Homo sapiens: one gene and its partners. The main gene of each other region encodes a partner of the protein of the gene in region 2 in a complex. Each region holds a gene or a part of one and is shown on either strand. Other genes may lie near its edges.

Region 1 (7,033 bases), on a different chromosome or scaffold from region 2:
GTTCAAGTGATTCTCCTGCCTCAGCCTCCTGAGTAGCTGGAATTACAGGTGCATACCATCGCGCCTGATTAATTTTTGTATTTTTAGTAGAGATGGGGTTTCACCACGTTGGCCAGGCTGGTCTCAAACTCCTGACCTCGTGATCCACCCGCCTTGGCCTCCCAAATGCTGGGATTACAGGTGTGAGCCACCGCAGCCGGCCTATCATTAGTCTTAAATGCTCTGAAAGCACATTTAAGATTAAAGGAAGATTCAGGATTTTTATTTATTTATTTATTTTTTTTTTGAGACAAGGTCTCACTCTATCGCCCAGGCTGGGGTGCAGTGGCATGATTTCGCCTCACCACAATCTCCGCCTCCTGGGTTCAAGCAATTCTCGTGCCTCAGCCTCCAGAGTAGCTGAGATTACAGGCACACACCACCACGCCCAGCTGATTTTTGTATTTTTAGTAGACATGGGGTTTTGCCATGTTGGGCAGGCTGGTCTTGAACTCCTGGCCTCCAAGTAATCCACCCGCCTCCAGCCTAGGATTTTTACTTTTATCACAAAGATGGGTATGAGTTAAAGAGCAGTGACTAAGAGTGTAAAACTCTGGTCTGAAGACATCTGTGCTTTCTTTTCCTTCCTGTTCCCTGTACCCCCAGGCACGGTCCCAGTCACTTGCAGCCCAAACTTTCGACAGGAGGTTGAAAGGCACGCAGCAGCCCCACCGTAACAAGAGAGAGGTCAAGGGGCTCTTGGGGTAGCACAGGTGCGTTCACACTTACCGCTTAGCCATAAGGTTGTTGACGCTGGCCTCAGACAGAAGCCCCTGCTTGCCACATTCTTGGAGCAGGAAGTTTGTACAGTCACAGCTGTGAGGGAGAAAGATGCTGAGGGAACTGGGCACCTGGATAGGATGGTGAGGGGTGGGAGTGGCAGGTCCCTGAGCAGCATCCTCCCTCTTTCAGGATGAGGAAAATCTGGAGTGCCTGAGGGACGGTAGAGGGGCTCTGGGGACTTGGCAACTGTGGGCTCCTATTTCCTGCCCCTGCCAAGGGGAGTGAACAAGGAGACAGAGTCCCCTGAGGCTTCTCTGGCACAGAGATCAGGGGAAGAGCCCAGAACGCCTTCCAGTAGGGCGGGGGTGACCAGGGGAGCTCATACTTGCAGCGCTGGTCAGCTTTGTCCAACAAGGGGGTGAGCTTCAGCAGGAACTCAAAAGCACAGTTGACATCCTCAGTGAAGTCCTAGAAAGAGGCAGAAGTGTCCATCTGGTTTCCAGGGCCACCAGGCCCTGATCATCTCAGGCAACCTTGTCTGCTGGAGGCATCGGCCTGAGTTGCCTGGCTGCTTTCTGCCTGGAGCCTGGGTGTATGTTGTGGGTGCACGCAGACGCTGAAGCACACACACTGGCTGAAGCACACGTACACGCTGAAGCACACACACGCTGAAACACACACACTGAAGCACGCACACACTGAAGCACACGCACATGCTGAAGCACACGCACATGCTGAAGCATGCACATTGTGAAGCACGTGCACGCTGAGGTGTACACTCACATCCGGCTCTCTTCCAGGCATGAGAACACTGCCCAGCTGGGGCCTGAAGGACCCTCCCCTTTGCCCTTATTTCTGCTCCCATGCCTCCATCTCAATCCCCAACTCACCTTGTCTCCATGAGAGTACTTCTTCAACTTCACCAAAACCTGTGGAATCTAGGGGGTGAGGCAGGGGGAAAAACAGGAAGATCCATTTCTTTTCTCTTTCATCTACCCCTGAAGGCATCCCCCCGAACCCCTGCTCCAGGAAGAGAGACAGGAACACTCCTACCCTGGGAGTGAGAGCACACTTAGTGCTAAATGAGAAAGCCAATAGGTGCCCAGGCCCCTGATGCCCCCAGGCCTAGGCACAGGACACAAGCACCCTGCACCTCCGCTAGCTCAACAGAAAAAGATGCCATAAGCAAAAGTGGATCCCCAGCTTCAAGGAGGACTGGGGCCCCTTTCCCTGGCTCCCTTTACTGCCCTGCACCTATCTGTCTGATGACCAAGCTAAACTGCACCTCTGTGGTAAGAAACAACGGAGTCTGCCAAATGGGCTAAATATAGCCCTGGCACTTTCAGAGAAAATGATCAATGGGAACTTGCACTGGAATACCTGGCAGGCTGGGCCCAGTGCCCGCAGGGAGGAACACAGGGCAAAGGTCCAGGGTGCCACTGGTCTTGCTAAGAACCATTCCTAGACTGGCTCTGCCCCTCCCACGTCCCCAGTACCTTGAGGAAAGTGAAAGCTGTCCACTTGAGCTCCTCCGTACCCTCGGGAGACTCAATGAGCCCCACGAAGCAAGCTTTCCAGATCTCCAGGACAAAAAGTGGGGTGGGGATATGCTGTGGGAAGAGCCAAGGATGAGGCCTAAGAGGGTGCCCATACCCCGTCACCCTTCTGTGGACTCTGAGGATTTGGCTGGGTCAGAGACTGCATGGCAGAGTCACTGCTCAGCTATGTGCTGAGAACCAGGGGAGTAAGGTCCAATGACAGAAGTGTGCACGACTGGCACCCACTTTCCATCATGGAGCAGGAGAAACCCCACTTCTCCCAGGGAGAACCAGAAGAATCCTCCCTCCTGCCCCCAACAGGCTGGCCTGCCTTGGAGAAGGGAGAGCCACTCGGCCCCTCCCACCTGCATGCGCTTCACCATCGTCAGCTGCTCCACCAGGGACTGCGTCTCGCCTGTCAGGTTCATGGTGCCCTCGAGCAGGATCACGGCGTGGACAGTGGGGAAGCCGGTCTTGTGCATCTGCTCCGCATGCACAGACAGCATCGTGGGGATGCTGAGGGGTCACAAACACAGGGGACGGTGTTTGGGGGGCCAAAGGTGAAGGCGGAGAGGATGGCACGGGTGCCACATCTTCCTACCCCAGGGCGTGTCCTCCCTCTCCCTTCTCCACCATCCCCCAGGGAGCCGGTACCTCCTAATGAGGGTGCCACACTGCTCGGCCTGACTCCGGAGCTGCGGGTTGCTGAGATTGGCCAGGATCTCTCCAAGTTTCAAGAGAGAATGCTCGATGGCAGTCCAAGAAGCTGGCAGAGGGAAGGAAGTACAGAAACATGATGGGAAACAGGAGAGAAGGAGCACCTGGCCCTGAACTCCTCGATTTTGGCACTCCCTCCGGCACACGAAACCACACAGGAAGGCTTCCCCTGAGGACAACAGGGAGGGAGGGGCCTGAGGGCAGCATGCACTGTTTCCAGAAGGGGGGTGGGCACCTAGAGCTGGAAACCCCAGAGACCATTCCCAAAAGCCTGATTTCCAGGGGACACAGCCAGCTGACTTCAGAAGGTATGGCATCACACAGGCTCAGGAGAGAGAGGCAGAGGGAGGCCAGAATCCAGTGGCTGGAACAGGGAGGGCGGCCACAAATCACTCGAGGAGTGAGCGGATCCCAAAGTCCAGTCTTGCAGAGGCTGTCACTCTCCTCTGGGGGAACTGGGTCCCTAAATGGCTTTCTCATTCTCAACCACTCCCTCATCTAGGCATTGCGTTTGCTGCCCTCCCCTGCTGAAGGCCTCTTACACACTCTCTCTCAAACTCCCACCATGCTCTAAGCTTCTGTTCAAGCCCCAGTTCCTTTAGCAACTCACCCGACTGGTCTAACTCACTGTTCTCTCCTTAATGCCCACACTCATGGTCTAAGCCATATTGGTTAGCACTGAACTATAAGTTACTTATCCTAGTTACAATTCCAGAGGGTCAAATGATGAATAATGGCACCAACTAGCCCATTAACCTCCATGGAGCATAAAAGGGGGAAAAAAAGACAAGACCTGAGATCCATTAAAATTCAGTATTCATCCGATTTTCAGCCAATAAACATTTATCAAGGGCCCAAGGTAGGGAAGAGGCTGTCAACACAGTCCATTTTTATATAAAGATTGTCTTTTTGGACTTTTCACAGGCAGTAAAACATACTTGGGGAAGAAATAAATATACTAGTCCTAAAACAAGCTCTCCAACCAGGTCCTGAAGCCTCGAGAGTAGCCCATTCTAGCATTCTTGTTCCTGGAGAACAAGAGACCTGTAGGTGGTCCCAAGCCACTTGGGCTTCAAGGAGCAAGACTATGGCCTTAGGACCCCATTGCTGGAAATACTGGCATCTTCCCTCCCGCCAGGTGATCTGTCTGTTCTCAGGCTCTGGAAAGTACCCAAACTTAACATCTGAACTTGAGTCAAGAGGCATATGGTACAACAGGCCCAACAGCAGACAGGCACTGTGTTAAAAGGGGCATTTTAGGTAACATTCAAATACAAGAGTCATCTGCTTCCAAGCGATGAGTAACATGGAGACAAACACAATAATGGACACTGTGCTTGTCTTGTCCTCTAGTTTTTTCCTCGTCTGTGATGTACTAGTCTTGCTACCCACTAGCAGCTATGCTTGATGAGGGCAGGGACCCTGCCACATGCTCCTTTGGTAGCCCCCCACCCCCCACCCCCAGCACCTAGCACAGTGCTGGGTATACAACAATGCTCAGTAAATACCTGTTGGTTGATTGGCTCGGGTGCCACCCTGCCCAAGTCCCTGGGATGTGTGCAATGCTTATGGGGAGAAAAAAAAGGAAGTGGGATGGTTTCAGATCCTCCTGGAAAGAGGTGGGATGGCATCCTGCCTCTCCCTTCTCAATTAAAGGACCGGCTATGGGAGCAGCGGCAGGTGGGGCTCAGGGGAATCAAGGGACATACAGGCCTCCTCTAGTTTGGCGATGTGCAGCAGGGCCCGGTTCTTGGTGCTGCTGAGGGTTTTCTCCAGGCGCTGAAGGCACATGGCAAGCTGCTTCTCCCCAGCGGCTGGAGTGCCGGCCTCCAGCCCCTCCCGCAGCCGCTCTGCAGAGGCTGCCGTGCAGCGCAGCAGCCAGTGGAGGGCGCTAAGAAGGGCTCGGCACAGTCCGATGCATTCCTCTGCTTTGCCGTGACAGCTACAGGGAAGGATGCAAAATCAGACTCTGTTCTTCCAATGGCTGAAATCCGACCCACATCAATGTTCCCCAGAGTCCCTGGCACTCCCCTACTAGGGACTAGGGCTGAGAAGCTAGCAAAGTCCTGGGGAAGATGCTTAGCCCCTTTGGCTCCTACTGGACAAGATTTCAAATGAGCTACTCCAGACAGAGAGGAGGCACTCTGTCCTAAGGGAGTAAGAAAAGGAGGGCACAGGTAAGTGTAGATGGGCAGGTGGGGAGAAAAAACGTTGGAACCCGGAGTTGGTCTCGGTCTGTGTGCTAGGAGCTGCACCTCTGCACAAAGACAAGGCTGGAACATTGTATTGTGAGCCCCCTTACCCCTGCCCTTACCTCAGACGGTCACAAAACATGTCCATGATGTCCAGCAATGCCTGGACACACAGGTCCCGAGAAAAGTCATCAAACTGTGGAAAGGACAGTGGAGATGCTACGGAATGCCTCCATCCACCCCCAGGTCTCACATGAGGCAGACGGTGCATTCAGGACTCCTGCTCCTCTCTCCTCCAACCCTGGGTTCCAGACTCAGCATCCTCAACACTGGACATTGGCTCCCAAGCACCAGCCCCTACTTGCCAGGATCCCCCTCCCATGGAAGTCCAGCAATGCCAGCCAGAGGCATCATGTGCTGCCTATCCAGCCTCACGGGTCACAGCATCAGGGCCGTCAAGGAGGCGGGGCCTTGTCTGTCATCCCCAATCTAGCTCCTGAGTGTCTATGGTCATACCTTACTGATGGCTGTGAGGACAGAAGAGTAGGACACCATCTGGAGAGAAGGAAGAAAGATAATCTTTAGACAACTAGTCTCCCACAGTTGAGAGGAACAAACACTGATGCTTCAAGTTGCTGCAGCTCTCCTGAACCTCAACCCCTTCCACAGGCCCTCTTCAACCCAAGCAAGGAGAGGCAGTGTCACTGTGCACTGCCCTGTTCCTGCCTCTGTCAGACTTACTGCAAATGGTATCAGCATAAGCCCATCAAGAAGATGATTCTGGGGATGCTCAAAGGCTCCATGTTTCAGGCCGAGCATGGTGGCTCATGCCTGTAATCCCAAAACTTTGGGAGGCCGAGGCGGGCGGATCACGAGGTGAGGAGTTTGAGACCATCCCGCCCAACATGGTGAAACCCCGTCTCTACTAAAAATTAAAAATTAGCTGGGTGTGGTGGTGCGTGCCTATAATCCCAGCTACTCAGGAGGCTGAGGTAGGAGAATCGCTTGAATCAGGGAGTTGGAGGTTGCAGTGAGCCGAGATTGTGCCACTGCAGTCCAGACTGGGAGCAGAGCGAGACTCTGTCTCAAAAAAAAAAAAAAAAAAAAGCGCCTGCTACTCACTGTCCTCAATAAGCATGGGTTAACTGACGGCTAGTGGGCAGAAGCATGGGCAAGAGTGAAGCCATGTCACTGTATTCCTACAGCTTCCGGCAAGAACAGAGGTTTTAATGGGTAAGAACTAGAGACAAACAAACATTTCCTGCACTGAGCAGGTAGTACCTGCACCTTGAAACAGGGAGTGGCTGGGCGTGGTGGCTCACGTTTGTAATCCCAGTACTTTGGGAGGCTGAGGCAGGATTACCTGAGGTCAGGAGTTCAAGACTAGCCTGGCCAACATGGTGAAACCCTGTCTCTACTAAAAATACAAAAATTAGCTGGGCCTGGTGGCCTATGCCTGTAATCTCAGCTACTTGGGAGGCTGAGGCAGGAGAGCTGCTTGAGCCTGGGAGACGGATGTTGCAGTGAGACGAAATCTTGCCACCGCACTCTAACCTGGGTGACAGAGTGAGACTCTGTCAAAAGAAAAGAAAGGGAGGGAGAGAGAGAGAAAGAGGGAAGGAAGGAAGGAAGGAAGGAAAGAAGGAAAGAAGGAAAGAGTAAGTTTTACTGTACAAACTCTTATTTGTTCTCCAGAACTTACTCCCTAGGACCCATCCAGGACACCTTCCCTGATCAACCCCAACCTCCCCCACAAAGCTGAAACCCTTCCTCTGTGCTCCAAGTAATCACCTAAGGCTCATCATTACACGGCGGGTGCCTGCA
Region 2 (7,033 bases):
GTTTTGTTTATATGATAAGTAGGAAAAAATGGAACTTAAATAAAAGCTTTTAAAAACTCTTTAAATGCTCCTAATTGTAAAAATATTTTCACAAAATACAGAATGCATGAAGAGAAGGCCAATCTTCAGTGCAGCCAGAGGCACAGGGAAACACAGCTGAAGCCCTCAAGGACCGAAGTCCGCTGCAGGCACGGATGGGATTCACTGCCTTCTAAATGCAGATGACTTTAGTCCCAGCAGTCGCCCTGGGGAGGGATTTCTAACCTAAAATTTGAAAGTTGTCTGAACTCCATGCAAAACTGTGCAAGCACGCTTGGACATACGTATTTTTTTCTCAGGATGGAGGGTTCATCATGCAAATCAGATTCTTAAAAAGGTCTGCAGAAAGAGCTAATGACGCTGGAGGTGATGTGGTGTGAATCTGCACAGCTGGATTCCTGAAGACTCTGCCTCCCTCTTACCCTTCTAGCTGATGAGGGAAGGGGCATGGAAAGAAATCTAAGATTTATCTGCCAACTAAATTTGAAACACAGGATGATTAAGGATTCTTAAGACATTTTCAAACGTGTCCCTAAATCAGTAAAACACAGGTTGCAAAGTGGTGGTCCACAGAATATTTTGTTAAACTTTGGAACAAATCACTCCAGGAAATTTCACACACAAATCTAGATTGCCAGCTTCCCTTGAACTGGGAGACCCATATTCCTGCATAACCACCACTTGCTGGAGCTGAGGAGCAGCTGTCCCTCTCAGGCACCTCATGGCCCCTTCCCTGCTGTCTGTCCTGAGTCTGATGCAGTTTTCATTGCCTTTTATCTTCAGCCAGTGCTTCTTTTTACATATAGTAAACAACAACAGTGAATACTTCTTGTATTAATGGCTCTATCAAAAGCAGGAAATCACAGACCAAGAGAACCACAGATTTGAGGAAACTAAAAGCAAGCACGTTTCTTATGAACCCTATTCCTGTGCCTGCAAAATAGAAAGTGAGTTTTGAAAAGACAGCTTAAGGCACTGCCTTTTGCAAATGTCTCCCATCACATTCATTTACATTATCTGGTACTTTTAGGCATCTTAAAATTTGAAACCCAGACCTCCCCTGCAATAAAATGTCTTATTTTTCATCCTGAAAGACGACACCACTGATTCATGCACACAGACTGCTTTTCTGTCCGAAGGCCTATCTAGTAAAAGGACTCACCCAAGCTGATCATCCACATTTCTTTAGGGGAAAGGCTGCATTTTCTTCACTTCATAAATTCATTCAGTAGAAACTGATTAAGGGTCTGCTTAAGTATAAGGCACTGTGCTTGAACCTAAGCAGTTATACAAATGAGCATAACCCTTTAATGCTTTCTTAGTCATCTCTACCTCCATGAAAGCTTCCTTGATTGGCCTAGTCAGAAAATACCCATCACTCCCCATACTCTACTGACCTCTGGACATACTTTTAATTACTTCAGATTTCAAACTGTATTTAAGAAGCTTATATAACTTTCTTCCCTGCAAGACTGAGAGTTGTTCAGAAGCCGGGTTCGCACATCATTCACACAACCCTTCCAGTCTGGCCTCTGCTCCCACCACTCTACAGAAACAGCTCTCACCACGGTCAGAAGACATGTTTAATCCTTATCTTAAAATCTTCACTTGCATTTTAATGCCTGTCAATCACTTCCTCTTTCTTGAAACACTGGCTACCCCTGGCTTCCAAAAGCCCCCTCTATGGTTCTTCCTTCTCTGCTTGATAGGCTCACGCTTCTCTGCCTCACCTATACCCGTCAGAATGTAGCTAAGCTCTACCAGGTCCTCTTCTCGTCTATACTTTTCTCCTCCTCCTCAATGAGCTCATCTGTGCCCCCTTAATTGAAGTTATCACCTATATGCCAACCACTCCCTCTCCCCTGAGCAAAAGGCCCAAGAGTCTACTTGATACCTCTACCTGGATATATCAAAAGGGATCTTTAAAACTTCCAAACTTCCACAACTCAATTTATAAACTTTCTCTCCAGATATAGTCTTATCTTTGAACACCACTGACTATCCAGGTATACAAGTAACAAATCTGGGACTCCTCAACATCTCTCTTTCCCTTATCCCCAAAACTCAACTCACTATTGAGTCCTGCAATAATATTTCTTCTCCACCTTCTTCACAAGGACACTAAGGCAAGCTATTGTTTCTTACTAGGTCTTCCTCACTAACCTCCTTGTCTCCCCAAATCCATTCCTGCCACTTTCTAATCCATACCCAGAATTATAGCCAGTGCACATTGTTATTTTTCCTTTTTAACTACACAAATCTGACATCAGTGCTTCTTCTTAAAACCTTTCAATGACTTTGTATTGCTTTTTGCAGGAAGACCCAACCCCTAGCATGCCTCTAAAGAGTCACTGTAATCTAGCCCCTGCATGCTTCTAACCTCGCGTCAGTTTCTAAAGGCCCCAAGCTCCATACAACCAAGGGCCTTCCCACTTGCAGCACCTCCTGTCTGGGACACATGCCTCGCTCCCCATTCTCCTTCCTCAGTTAATGTGTACTCATCATTGAGATCTCTGAGCAAATGTTACTACTTCTACAACGAAGTCTTCTCTGACCTTCAGCCTAGAGTGCCCCGTCTATCCCATGCTTTTATCACTTATAAAATGGGTTGTAATAATATGCGTGCTTGTGTAATTATTTAATTGATGTCCACTTCCAGAATAGATTAGAAAGTCCATGAGGGTAAGTGCCTTGTTTCTTTCAGTAACCATTTTATCCCCCATGATGCATTGCAGTTTAGGCAGTGAATGAGTAAGAAAAGGAAACAGCAAGTTGCTTGGCACTCTTACAGCCCAACTTCACTGGAGCTTTTAATAATACAACCAGTTATATGCCCCAGTAACCACAATGCAAAGTAAAATGTGATTTTGTTATAAGTGATACAACAAAGGGGGAAAACAGAGAAGGGAGAAGAGACTCTGGAAATGGCTAGAAGGCTTCATGGAAGAGGTTCCTTGGAAACTTGATCTGGAAGAATGGTGGATTTAAGCATGCAAGAGTGTGCAAATTATCAGTCTGTAAGCTCCTGACGACTCTGATACTCAGCGGTCACAGGTTCCCAACATAGACTGCTTACTTATGAGTTACAAGAGGAAAATTTCAGAAAACAATTACTCTTCTCCAAAGGCATTTCAATATAAAACATTCTCCCAGTCCATAAGTTTAGGATAAAATCAATACAGCTCTCACTTTAGGTTCTTTTTTTTCCCCCGAAAGACATGAAATTAAAATTTTTTGTCAAATACAGTAAAGAAAGCTTTTAAGTTATGATCATACCAAGATACTCCTCAAAGTAAATTTGTGTTCTGGGACACCTACCATTGCTGTGAGGCCAAGAGTGCACAGTGGCACTTCTCACCAGAGCTTCGTCCACTTTTCCACCAGTGGGGTTATCCACATACTGCCGCCCCTGCTCCAACGCATTAAAGCATTCCGTCCAGTAATCATTATTATCTGCTTGCACCCGGTCATAACTCCAGCTTACACAGGGAAGAGTTTGGCGATTGTTAGAGGAAATGTAGTCCAGGAAATTCAGTGAAGCAAAAGGTTGTGTGTGTTGATTCTGGAGGAGGAGGAGAAGGCTTATGGGTGGCTCCTGGGGTTTTTTGGTTCCTTCCACCTGAGGAAGGAAGGTGGACTGACACATCATTAAGCGCCTCTCTGCAGCCTGACCAATATCAGAATTCTTCCCAAAAATATCCAACTCATCTTCAAGGAAGAGTCCTGAATTGTAGCCAAGTTTGCGGTTCATAATCGCACTAAACCCACAGGTACAGCGGTACTGGTCCTCATTGGAAGAATCGGGGATGTAAAGCCCGACATCCGCCCCTTTGATGTTCATGTTGCAGGCACAGATGCAACAGCTGTCAAAGTTTCTGTCTTTAAAGATATTCATCACGGAATCGGAGAGAATCAGGGTAACATAGAGGCTGTGGGCTTCGGGAATTGGCTGCATGGTGGCGGGCTCCACAGAGTTGAGGGGCCGTGTAGTAGAGGGGGTGGAGGCTGGTGATCCTTGATCGGTGCTATCATACTTAACAGACCCTTGACCACTGGCAGTGCCCCCACCTCTGGGAGTTCTTGGGGTCCTGGGGGTTCGTGGTGTGGGGACAGAGAAGCGAGGGGTTGCTGGAGATGGTAGGACTCCTGCCCCACTATTGCTGGCTGGGGCAGCGCTGTTCAACGTCACGGGTGTGTTCATCTGTGGTGTGTTCAGATAGTCTGGATCTGCTAGGCTCCCAACACTAGGCACGTTACTACAAAAAGAGAAGGCACCAAGTGAGGAAGGGCAGCATGTCACAGATGCTGAACTAGACACATGATCACCCCAGCCATGTACTGTGTATTTCTTATCATTTGTTTCTGCTATCACTGGGATACACTGGTATATTTAATTTTCTCTTAAAAAAAAAAAAGAAGATACAAAGGTCAGTGCAGTGTGTAGAGAAGAAGAAAGTAAGGTATGAAGAATAATTCAACACAGCACTTTCCTTCTACTTATTCCACATATAAGCATCCTCATCCTAACCTCTTGAAGGAACTTTTACTATTTTTATAAGAAAACATGGTACTGGGTTTGGTCAATGTAATTTGAAAAGTTAACTACTAAATGGAACTTCAACCATAAGTGCAGACACTAAATTAGCTAGAGGACCATAGGATGAAATTTCCATCTAATTTGCAATTACATTTTTGTCATTTTTTTTTTGAAATTCAAAGTCTGCCAGTGTACTTGTTCTCTGAGGCTATAATCTATATATCATATCAAAGTAGTTATAATCAAATACACATGAAAATTTAACATTTTTCTAATTTTCAAAATGCAGCCCTATCTAGGCTTACATTTTTATAGTAATGAGTGACCATGAGGGAATTATATTTTAGGTAGCCCATTTACCAGTACTATACTACAACTGATAGAAATATTACATATGCGGCTAAGAGGCCTCAGTATTAATTAGGTGGTTGCACAGAAGTACACATACTGTATCAGAGTTTCCAGCTTCCAGCAGCTTTCTGTGGGGTGGTAAGCACTTCATTTTTCACTTTTCAATATGGTATGCATTGCATATAGTGTAATTATTTTAGTTGCCCAAGACTGACTGGGCTATGTTATCTACTTTCTCATAAGCAGTGACTTCTTTTTGGAACAGCTAGGCAGAAAACACTGTCTGCAAGGTTCTGCTGTTTCATTATCATAAAACATTTTCTTGATATACAGTTGGCCCTCTATAGCCACAAGTTCCACATCTGTGGATTCAGCCATATACAGATGGAAAATCAAAATAAAAATACAATTAAAAAAAAAACAACAGTTAAAAAACACAAATCAAAACAGTAAAGTACAACATTTATATAGCATTTACATTGTATTAGGCATTACAAGTAATCCAGAGATGACTTAAGGTATACAGAGGGATTTGTGTAAATTACAAGGAAATACTCTGCCATTTTATATAGGGTACTTGAGCATCTTCAGATTTTGGTATCCGAGGGGGTCCTGGAATCAATCCCCCAAGGATACCAAGGGACAACTGTACTTTCTTAGATGTATATGTATATTAGCATATGAGTCCATTCTTCCTACTTAGAAGGTATCAAAAGAATATTTTTAAAATTTTTTAATATCCTTTTATATATATTAATACTGTACTTAAACTAATGCTCCTCCAATAAACTACATATTCAGTTACTTATAATGTGAAAGAAGCACGTCATAAAGAAATGTCTCTTCAAATAATTTCCTTGTGATTTTTAATTAGCTATGCCTAAACTACCAGCCTAAAAGTCCAAATCAGGCACTGTAAAGAAATATTAAATCTGAGGCACAGTGGTATCTTTGAGTACAGATAAAAAAAAAAAAATGACCCAGAAAACTTGATTGGCAATCACTGCTCTCTTAGAGACCAAAATAGTTAAGTGTGTAATAACGATCTTTACTCTAACTGGACTCCTTTCAAATTCTCCTGTTCAACAAAACCCTAAAATTATTACGCAGTTCAGATCAGAAAAGGAACTATGAGTACTAACTGAAAACCTAAAGAATTAAATTGCTCCCTGGGTAGTAAGAATGGTTTATCTTGTAATCTGATTTTTCCCATTTAATAAAAATGAACTGAGTAGCAACCCTACGCTAGAAGCTGGATAGTCAAAAGTGAAAAAGAGAAACAAAAGGTGGCTCATAAGCAAGTATGGCAGACATGAAGCAAATGATTGCAGGGGTATTGCATGTGACAAAGGAGGAGTCCAGGGTGATGGCGAGCAGAGACCACAGCAGGATTACACATATGCTGGAAACATACTGTCCAATAAGGTAGCCACCAGTCCCCATGTCCTAAATTTAAATTAATTAACATAAAACAATTCAGTCTTGGTCTCACTAGCCACATTTCAAGTGGTCAACACCTGCAGCAGGAAGCTGATGACTGCCATAGTGGACAGTGCAGACAGGAATCACCTACATGCCAGGTGCAGTAGCTCATGCCTATAATCCCAACACTTTAGGAGGCCGAGGCAGGAGAAACACTTGAACCCAGGAGTTCAGGACCAGTGTCGGCAACACAGGGAGACACAAACTCTACAACAAAATTTCATAAAAATTAGCTGGGTGTGGTGGCACGTGCCTGTAGTCCCAGCTACTCAGGAGGCTGATGTGGGAGGATCACTTGAGCCCAGGAGGTCAAGGCTGCAGTGAGCTGTGATTGTGCCACTGTACTCCAGCCCAGGTGACAGAGCGAGACCCTGTCTCCAAAAAACCCCCCCAAAAAACAAAAACAAAAACAAAAACAAAACCTTCATCACATAAAGTTGTATAATAGAGCCAGTTAAGAATACAAAGAATCTTTGGGATGGCAAATGAAAGATGTAATAGATCTAAATAATGACCTAAATGATTTAAACGATTACACAGCAAAAGCTTGCATGTGACCTTTTTGGGGAAACCTGTATGTATGAAAGAGATTAAACTGCTGAATGGGTTCTTAAAACTGCTATG
Region 3 (7,033 bases), on a different chromosome or scaffold from region 2:
AATACCTTAAAAAAGGGCCCAAGTTACATTTAAAGTCTGTATTTCTGAAGCAAAGGGACAGAGCACATAAACAGGTATAGTTCAAGACTCAAATAAAGAAGGCAGATTTTTAAAGGGTCAAAAGAAAGAGTTATGGTATTAACTAGAAAGGTATGCCAGTTAGCCTCAAATCTACCCTTCTCTCTGGCCCCTGAAACCATTTCTCCTTTGCCAGCTGCCACAATTAAGTTTTGTCAGTAGAGGGCACAGGTGGGACTCCACTAGCAAACAAGTTTCACTTCCTGGATCAGGTGGTTTTGTCTCCTTTACTGCTGTGATGCCTGGTTGGTGTGCAGGACATTAAGTGGTGTTCACCACAGCAACTTTCGGTGGCGCCTCTAAAGGTGGTTTCCTAGCAGGTTTCACCAGAATCCCAAAGGGCAGCTTCCCAGCAAGTCTCCCTGGAACCCCAGTGGGTAATTTCCTGCTTGCCAGCTCTGGCCTCTGATGCCTCATCTAACTTCTCTGCCATGGAGTGGGCCACATTACACTGCACCCTCTCCAATGACAGCACCATGATATGAGAGTATCGGCCTTGGGATGGAGCTGGGGAAGACTGTTTTTAGGTCTGTCCCTTCCTTGGTCCAAAATGTGGCAGTGACTCCCCATATCTGTTTTTCCTGTACTTTTAAAACATGAGAAATATGAGGTGATATCCAAGGATATCACAGTTGAGTTCCCCTGGTTGTACTTTAGGTAGCTAACAAAAATGATGCATACAAAGCATTATTAATGACACAGGGACAGCCTTATGATGTAACATTAAGCAAAAAATGTATAGGGGAAAAAAGGAAACAGGCTAAAATATTTAAAGTGACTGCCTCAGAAAGGGTATATTTTTTTCCTTTTTTAAATGCCTTTTTCTACTTCCCAAATGTTCTACCACATCAAAACAAAAGTCACCTACAAACTATAAAAGATGAGGAATAATATAAAACAAATATATATAAAAATAGCACAAACCTATGAAAAACTTGAGGAAAACTGAAGCTCAGAATGAACTGGGTCTCACAGAAATACTATTTTATAAAGTTATAAAAGTTTATAAAAAGCTATTGTTATTCATTTTGTTAACTTGGGGGTTGTTCAGGAGTGTGTTCACTTTATTCCGTAAACTATCTTACTCTATTTACATAGCATGTTTCACAATTATAAAAAAGCTATGTTTAGAGCAATAATTTAAAAAGAGAGGCCAAATGCCTGAGGAAGACAGTGTAATATTTACAAATAAGAGAAAGGCAGCTTGTTCTAATTTCATACCTCCCTCAAGGAGAATCTTTAGAGCAGAATAAACCGGCAAAGAATCTAGCTATTACAATGAACTGGGTCTGAGAGGCAGGCACACTGGCTCACACCTGTAATTCCAGTACTTTGGGAGGCTGAGGCAGGTGATTGCTTGGGGTCAGGAGTTCGAGACCAGCCTGGCCAACAGAGCGAAACCCCATATCCACTAAAAATACAAAAATTAGCCAGGCCTGGTGGCACACACCTGTAATCCCAGCTACTCGGGAGGCTGAGGCACAAGAATCACTTGAACCTGGGAGCCAAGATTTCGCCAACACGCTCCAGCCTGGGTGACATAACAAGACTGTCTCAAATTTACAAAAAAAAAAAAATTGTGTCGGGAATCTCAAACTTGCTTTACCGCCAGATATTCCAACCTTGTCATCTCTGGAAAACCCTGATCTGTTTGAAAACACTCTTCGGCTTAACATTACCTGGCAATCTTCCTGCTGCAAGTGCATCTCCTGGTAAATGGCCATTCACGCCATTAGTGGAAGGATTGTTCATCTGACCCAGTAACCCACTTCTCATCTCTAAATCAGTTGGGTAGGGTCTCCGGGGGTCCCCTAAAACAATAAAGACTGCATTTAATTCAATCATATTTTAAAAAATAAGTGTTAATATGTTATTTGACATACTCATTTTCGCTGGTTCATGCTGAAAAGTTCAGGCTACATTTTCAATTTTGAAATACAGAAGTCATCTGGCCAGGTGCAGTGGCTCACGCCTGTAATCCCAGCACTTTAGGAGGACGAGGTGGGTGGATCACCTCAAGTCAGAAGTTCAAGACCAGCCTGGCCAGCATGGTGAAACCCCGTCTCTACTAAAAATAAGAAAATTAGTCAGGCGTGGTGGCACGCACCTATAATCCCAGCTACTCGGGAGGCTGAGGCAGGAGAATCGCTTGAACCCGGGAGGCAGAGGTTGCAGTGAGCTGAGATTGCACCACTGCACTCCAGCCTGGGCCACAGAGCAAGACCCTGTCTCAAAAAAAAAAAAAAAAAAAAAAGAAAGAAAGAAATATAAAAGTCACCTTATAAATTGTTATTAATAGCATATTACTTTTTAAAATACACGCATTTTAATTTCTTTTCTGAATCTTCCCAAGAATATACTATTTTCTACACTTTAAAAAAAAAGAGATGTCATTTTTTTGTAGACATTCCAGATGACAACTTAAGAAAATTATAATAATCTCAATTATTCAAACTTAACTGTATTTTCTAGCAAGAAAATGACAATGATTATGCTGCAAGGGAGAAAAAAATCATGACACTTATAAGACAGAAAGGACTGGAATGTTTAATAGAAGGACTGTCTCAATTTAAAATCTTTTTTTTTTTTTACATTTTTCATCTTTTTGTTTTACTTTTATTTTCCTCATGCCACCTTGTCTAAGATAAAACCTTTTTCTAACCAACCTCTTTGATCTTGTAATTCAGAAACTAATTCGTGTAAGTGGCAAAATAGCAGGAGCAGGTAATGTCCATCCCAAACATGAAAGCACACTAAATAGCAGTATGTGGTTGACAAAAACTTGACCAGATTTGGATTGACTTTTTGGGCACATCTCACCAACTGCAGCTTATCCATCCCCAAAATTATAGTCACCCTTAGTGCTTTCAGCATGGTAACACAGCACCTTCAGAAGTTATTTTGAAGTGGAGATAACTACTAATATTTCCCCTTCCTCCAATAAGGCTGCTACCTTACGTCTCCTGTTTTATGTTTCATCCACTGTCAATATAGTTGCAGCTTGATCCTCTCTTTTGCTGTCTAATTATCCCAGCTCTTTCCAAGCCTGTATGTTCACTGTTGGGTGCGTAGTGCTTTGTCTTTAGCATCTAAGAGAACTGGAATTGTCTTTCTCAGGCTGGAACCTTTGTGGAAATCCTAATGGCTCTAAAGAGTTTGCTTCTGGCCAGCCCTGATAAAATGGTATATAAATCCAAAGCTTTAGAAGCATCACATTATTATCTCGTACTTTAAAAAATTATCAATTTATTATTTCAAAAGACGAAAGAAACACAGTCCCTAGCAACAATGGCTTCACAGAAAACCAAATTTATAAAACCCATGGCCTATATCATTACTTATAAACCATTAAAGATGTGAAAATATGTGGCAGAGGTTTCTAAGGATAAATACATTTTAAATTAAATCTATGTCTGTACATAGTCACCTAAGAATCTTCAAAACCACATATATCTAGTATAATAAGACGAGTATGTTTACCTGGAACCCAGGTCAGTGGAGCACATACAGCATTACTTGCACTGATCCTATGTGCATACTTAATTATTTCTTCAGAGGAGATAGCACCTGAAAGAGTTTTAAGAGGACAGTATAACCTGTAGTCTAACAAACATACAAGTTTAGAAATGTATCTATCAGTTACACATCGTATTTAATTTTAAATTATCTGAAAATAAAATAATCTCAGTCACCTGCCTTCCTTAACAATACCTACATGTTTAGTATAAACTTAAATCTCCAAAAACAGGACACTAATCCAGAAAAATTAGCTGACATAAACAAATTTCGGAGATTAGCACCATAGCACTCAATAATCTCAATTATTAACTACCGTTAAATACCATTCCTCTTCTGAAAGCATAGTGAGCACAAATAAAATAGAGAAAACAGTGTTTCATTTCTCAAAGACATCCAAGCTATGAAATCAGAGCAGACAGTTCACACCACTCTGTTCGATCAATATGCCCTAAGGCTCTTAAGTAGACCTAAATAGAAAGATGTCTACAATGTATTCATTAGGTAAAAAAAAAAACTAAACTGCTAAATAATATGTACGGTATGACCCGACTGTTCAAAATGTATGTACATATGTGTATTTGTATTTTTATTACATACATACTCACAGATCTAGAAAAAAAAAATCTAGGACATATACCAAACATTAATAGTTACCTCTGAGAAGTGAGAACCACACACTTCATTTTACAAACTTTAGATACTGTTTCAATGTAACAAAGTGTATGTGTGTACAGTTTTTGAAGATTAAAAACAGAATCAAACAACGGTCTAGAAGTCAACAGCCAGCCTCAGCCATCTCTCCTAGAGATTTGTTTCTTGCTACAGAAGCCTAACCTAACTCTCAAAAGAATATTAGCTATTTGGCTGGGCGCAGTGGCTCATGCCTGTAATCCCAGCACTTTGGGAGGCCGAGGTGGGCAGATCACGAGGTCAGGAGATCAAGACCATCCTGGCTAACACAGTGAAACCCCGTCTCTACTAAAAATACAAAAAATTAGCCGGGTGTGGTGGCGGGCGCCTGTAGTCCCAGCTACTCGGGAGGCTGAGGCAGGAGAGTGGCGTGAACCCGGGAGGCGGAGCTTGCAGTGCGCCGAGATCGCGCCACTGCACTCCAGCCTGGGCGACAGAGCGAGACTCCGTCTCAAAAAAAAAAAAAAGGAGTATTAGCTATTTAACAGAAGCCTTTGAAAAAGGGACAGCAGGGCAGGAAGGCATGTGGGCCTCTGCACCACCAAATGTGCTTATATGCCAAGGGTATAACTGGCTCTGACTTCATGTACGTCTGGCTCTGACTTCATGATGTTTCAGTCCCAGCGCAGTTGCCCAATGGATGTCTTTTCACTCTCTCTGTCCTAACCTTCAAGATTTGGTACAAATCCCACTTCTAACCCATACTTCTCTTTCCCTCTCCCACCAATTTTATAAACTCACTGTTTTTACTGCACATTTGGGCACACAGCCATAAACTGCCTTGTATTAATTGCTTTTTATAATCTGAAAAAAGATGTGATACTTCTACCTCCCTCACAAAACCCAGCACAATGCTAGAACACAACACACTTTACAATAAAAATTTACTGAATCTTTTCAACAGCAGCAAATGATTATCAGTAATATCCTCTTGTATTGGTTTCCTGAAACCAGAACCTTAACTTTTCAGGTCATTCAGTCTTCCCATGATACTAACCTTTTCTTGCTTTTTCTATTGACTTGAGTTTCTCCTTCGCTTGGTAAACAGCTGTTGCCTAATTTAAACAACATTTAAAAAACGTGGTTTATTCTTCAACTATATCAAACTTAGTTTTTGGCTTAATTCACAAGATCCTTTAGCCTACAAGAACAATCTTTGAAACTTGGAAATCCCAACAATTTATTTGTAATGTTCTGAAATACCACTTGACATTATTTATTTCAGTCATATTTAATGAAAGAAATATTATATTTATGAACTAGTCTCCCATTCACAAATTAGTTGTAGAAACAAAACATAAATTGGATTGTCTTTTTCTTCACGTCTTCTACCATAAACATGCAGAAGACACCCAGACTATGGACGACCCCAAAAGCATCCTATTCTTGCAACTAGTTCAAGAATAAAATACCCTTTTTTCCCCTAGTTTGGAAGATACAACCTTGAATTCATATTCTTATTCGTTTATATATCAGCTCAATGTTTAATGACTTTATCACAAAAACACTCCCTCCAAGCCCTCAGGTACACTAAAGGACAAAATGAAGTTAACCTAGTATATGCATATCTTCGACTATGACACTGTGGTTAAGAGTATGGAGTCAGGCCAGGCACAATGGCTCACACCTGTAATCCCAGCATTTTGGGAGGCCGAGGCAGGCAGATCATTTGAGATCAGGAGTCTGAGACCAGCCTGACCAACACGGTAAAAACCCATCTCTACTAAAAATACAAAAAATTTATATGGGCATGGTGACACACGCCTATCTCAGCTACTTGGGAGGCTGAGGCAGGAGAATCGCTTGAACCCAGGAGGCAGAGGTTGCAGTGAGCCAAGACTGTGCCATCGCACTCTGGCCTGGGCAATAGAGCAAGAGCAAGACTCTGTCTCAAAAAAAAAAAAAAAAAAAAAAAAAGAGTATGGAGTCAGAGAGATCAAGGTTTAAATTCAATCTACTTTTTAGCCTCCATGGGCAAGTTAGTTATTAAAGTATTGGTTTCTTCCTCTAAATGACGACACTGACTTGATATAAACTGTTAGGAAGATGGAAGTAATGCATATAAAATGCAAGGCACAGGGCCTGGTGCCTAAGTGCTCAATCAATGTTAGTTACTACTATTTAAGTCATGAAATTCAGTTTTATGGTCCTGTGTTCACTGTCTTTAATTATTTATAACACAAAGTGGGAAAATCAAACAAAGTGGATACAATTATATGAAAAATGCTTAAGTTTCAATAAACAGTAATTGAAAGTCTGTTAGTATCCTGCTAACTACAATTACCTAAAAAATTAATACACCTGAGACTCAAAGGAAATAGACCAAACTATGAATAGTGGCATTCTTTCCGCAGCTGAACTAAAGACAATTTTTTCCCTCTTCTTTCCATTTTTCTGTATTTTCTGAATTTTGTTTGATAAGCAAGTATTACATACATAAGGATTTTTATATACATATTTACAGATTTTAATATATATATAATATATACAAACATATAAATAATATATTTTGAGACAGAGTCTCCCTCTGTCGCCCAGGCTGGAGTGCAGTGGGGTGATCCCAGTTCATTGCAACCTCTGCCTCCCGGGTTCAAGAGATTCTCCTGCCTCAGCCTCCCAAGTACCTGAGATTACAGGCGTGAATCACCATGCCCAGCTAAATTTTTTTGTATTTTTAGTAGAGATGGATTTCACCATGTTGACTAGGCTAGTCTTGTACTCCCGACCTCAGGTGATCTGCCCACTT

What was found. The genes of interacting proteins can lie anywhere in the genome.
Region 1: MED13L (region 2) and MED24 share a complex: the UniProt entries of both Homo sapiens proteins name them as parts of the mediator complex.
Region 3: MED13L (region 2) and MED4 share a complex: the UniProt entries of both Homo sapiens proteins name them as parts of the mediator complex.

Annotation. Positions count from the first base shown.
Region 1 is NC_000017.11:40,030,391-40,037,423, forward strand, and holds part of MED24 (mediator of RNA polymerase II transcription subunit 24), read right to left. Parts: intron 5,765-7,033; coding exon 5,726-5,764; intron 5,406-5,725; coding exon 5,332-5,405; intron 4,960-5,331; coding exon 4,727-4,959; intron 4,583-4,726; coding exon of another isoform or gene 4,526-4,582; intron 3,067-4,525; coding exon 2,955-3,066; intron 2,817-2,954; coding exon 2,666-2,816; intron 2,373-2,665; coding exon 2,259-2,372; intron 1,701-2,258; coding exon 1,653-1,700; intron 1,231-1,652; coding exon 1,148-1,230; intron 856-1,147; coding exon 769-855; intron 1-768. UniProt on the Homo sapiens protein: Component of the Mediator complex, a coactivator involved in the regulated transcription of nearly all RNA polymerase II-dependent genes.
Region 2 is NC_000012.12:115,987,663-115,994,695, forward strand, and holds part of MED13L (mediator of RNA polymerase II transcription subunit 13-like), read right to left. Parts: intron 4,296-7,033; coding exon 3,358-4,295; intron 1-3,357. UniProt on the Homo sapiens protein: Component of the Mediator complex, a coactivator involved in the regulated transcription of nearly all RNA polymerase II-dependent genes.
Region 3 is NC_000013.11:48,078,087-48,085,119, forward strand, and holds part of MED4 (mediator of RNA polymerase II transcription subunit 4), read right to left. Parts: intron 5,343-7,033; coding exon 5,285-5,342; intron 3,646-5,284; coding exon 3,559-3,645; intron 1,908-3,558; exon of another isoform or gene 1,890-1,907; coding exon 1,758-1,889; exon of another isoform or gene 1,691-1,757; intron 1-1,690. UniProt on the Homo sapiens protein: Component of the Mediator complex, a coactivator involved in the regulated transcription of nearly all RNA polymerase II-dependent genes.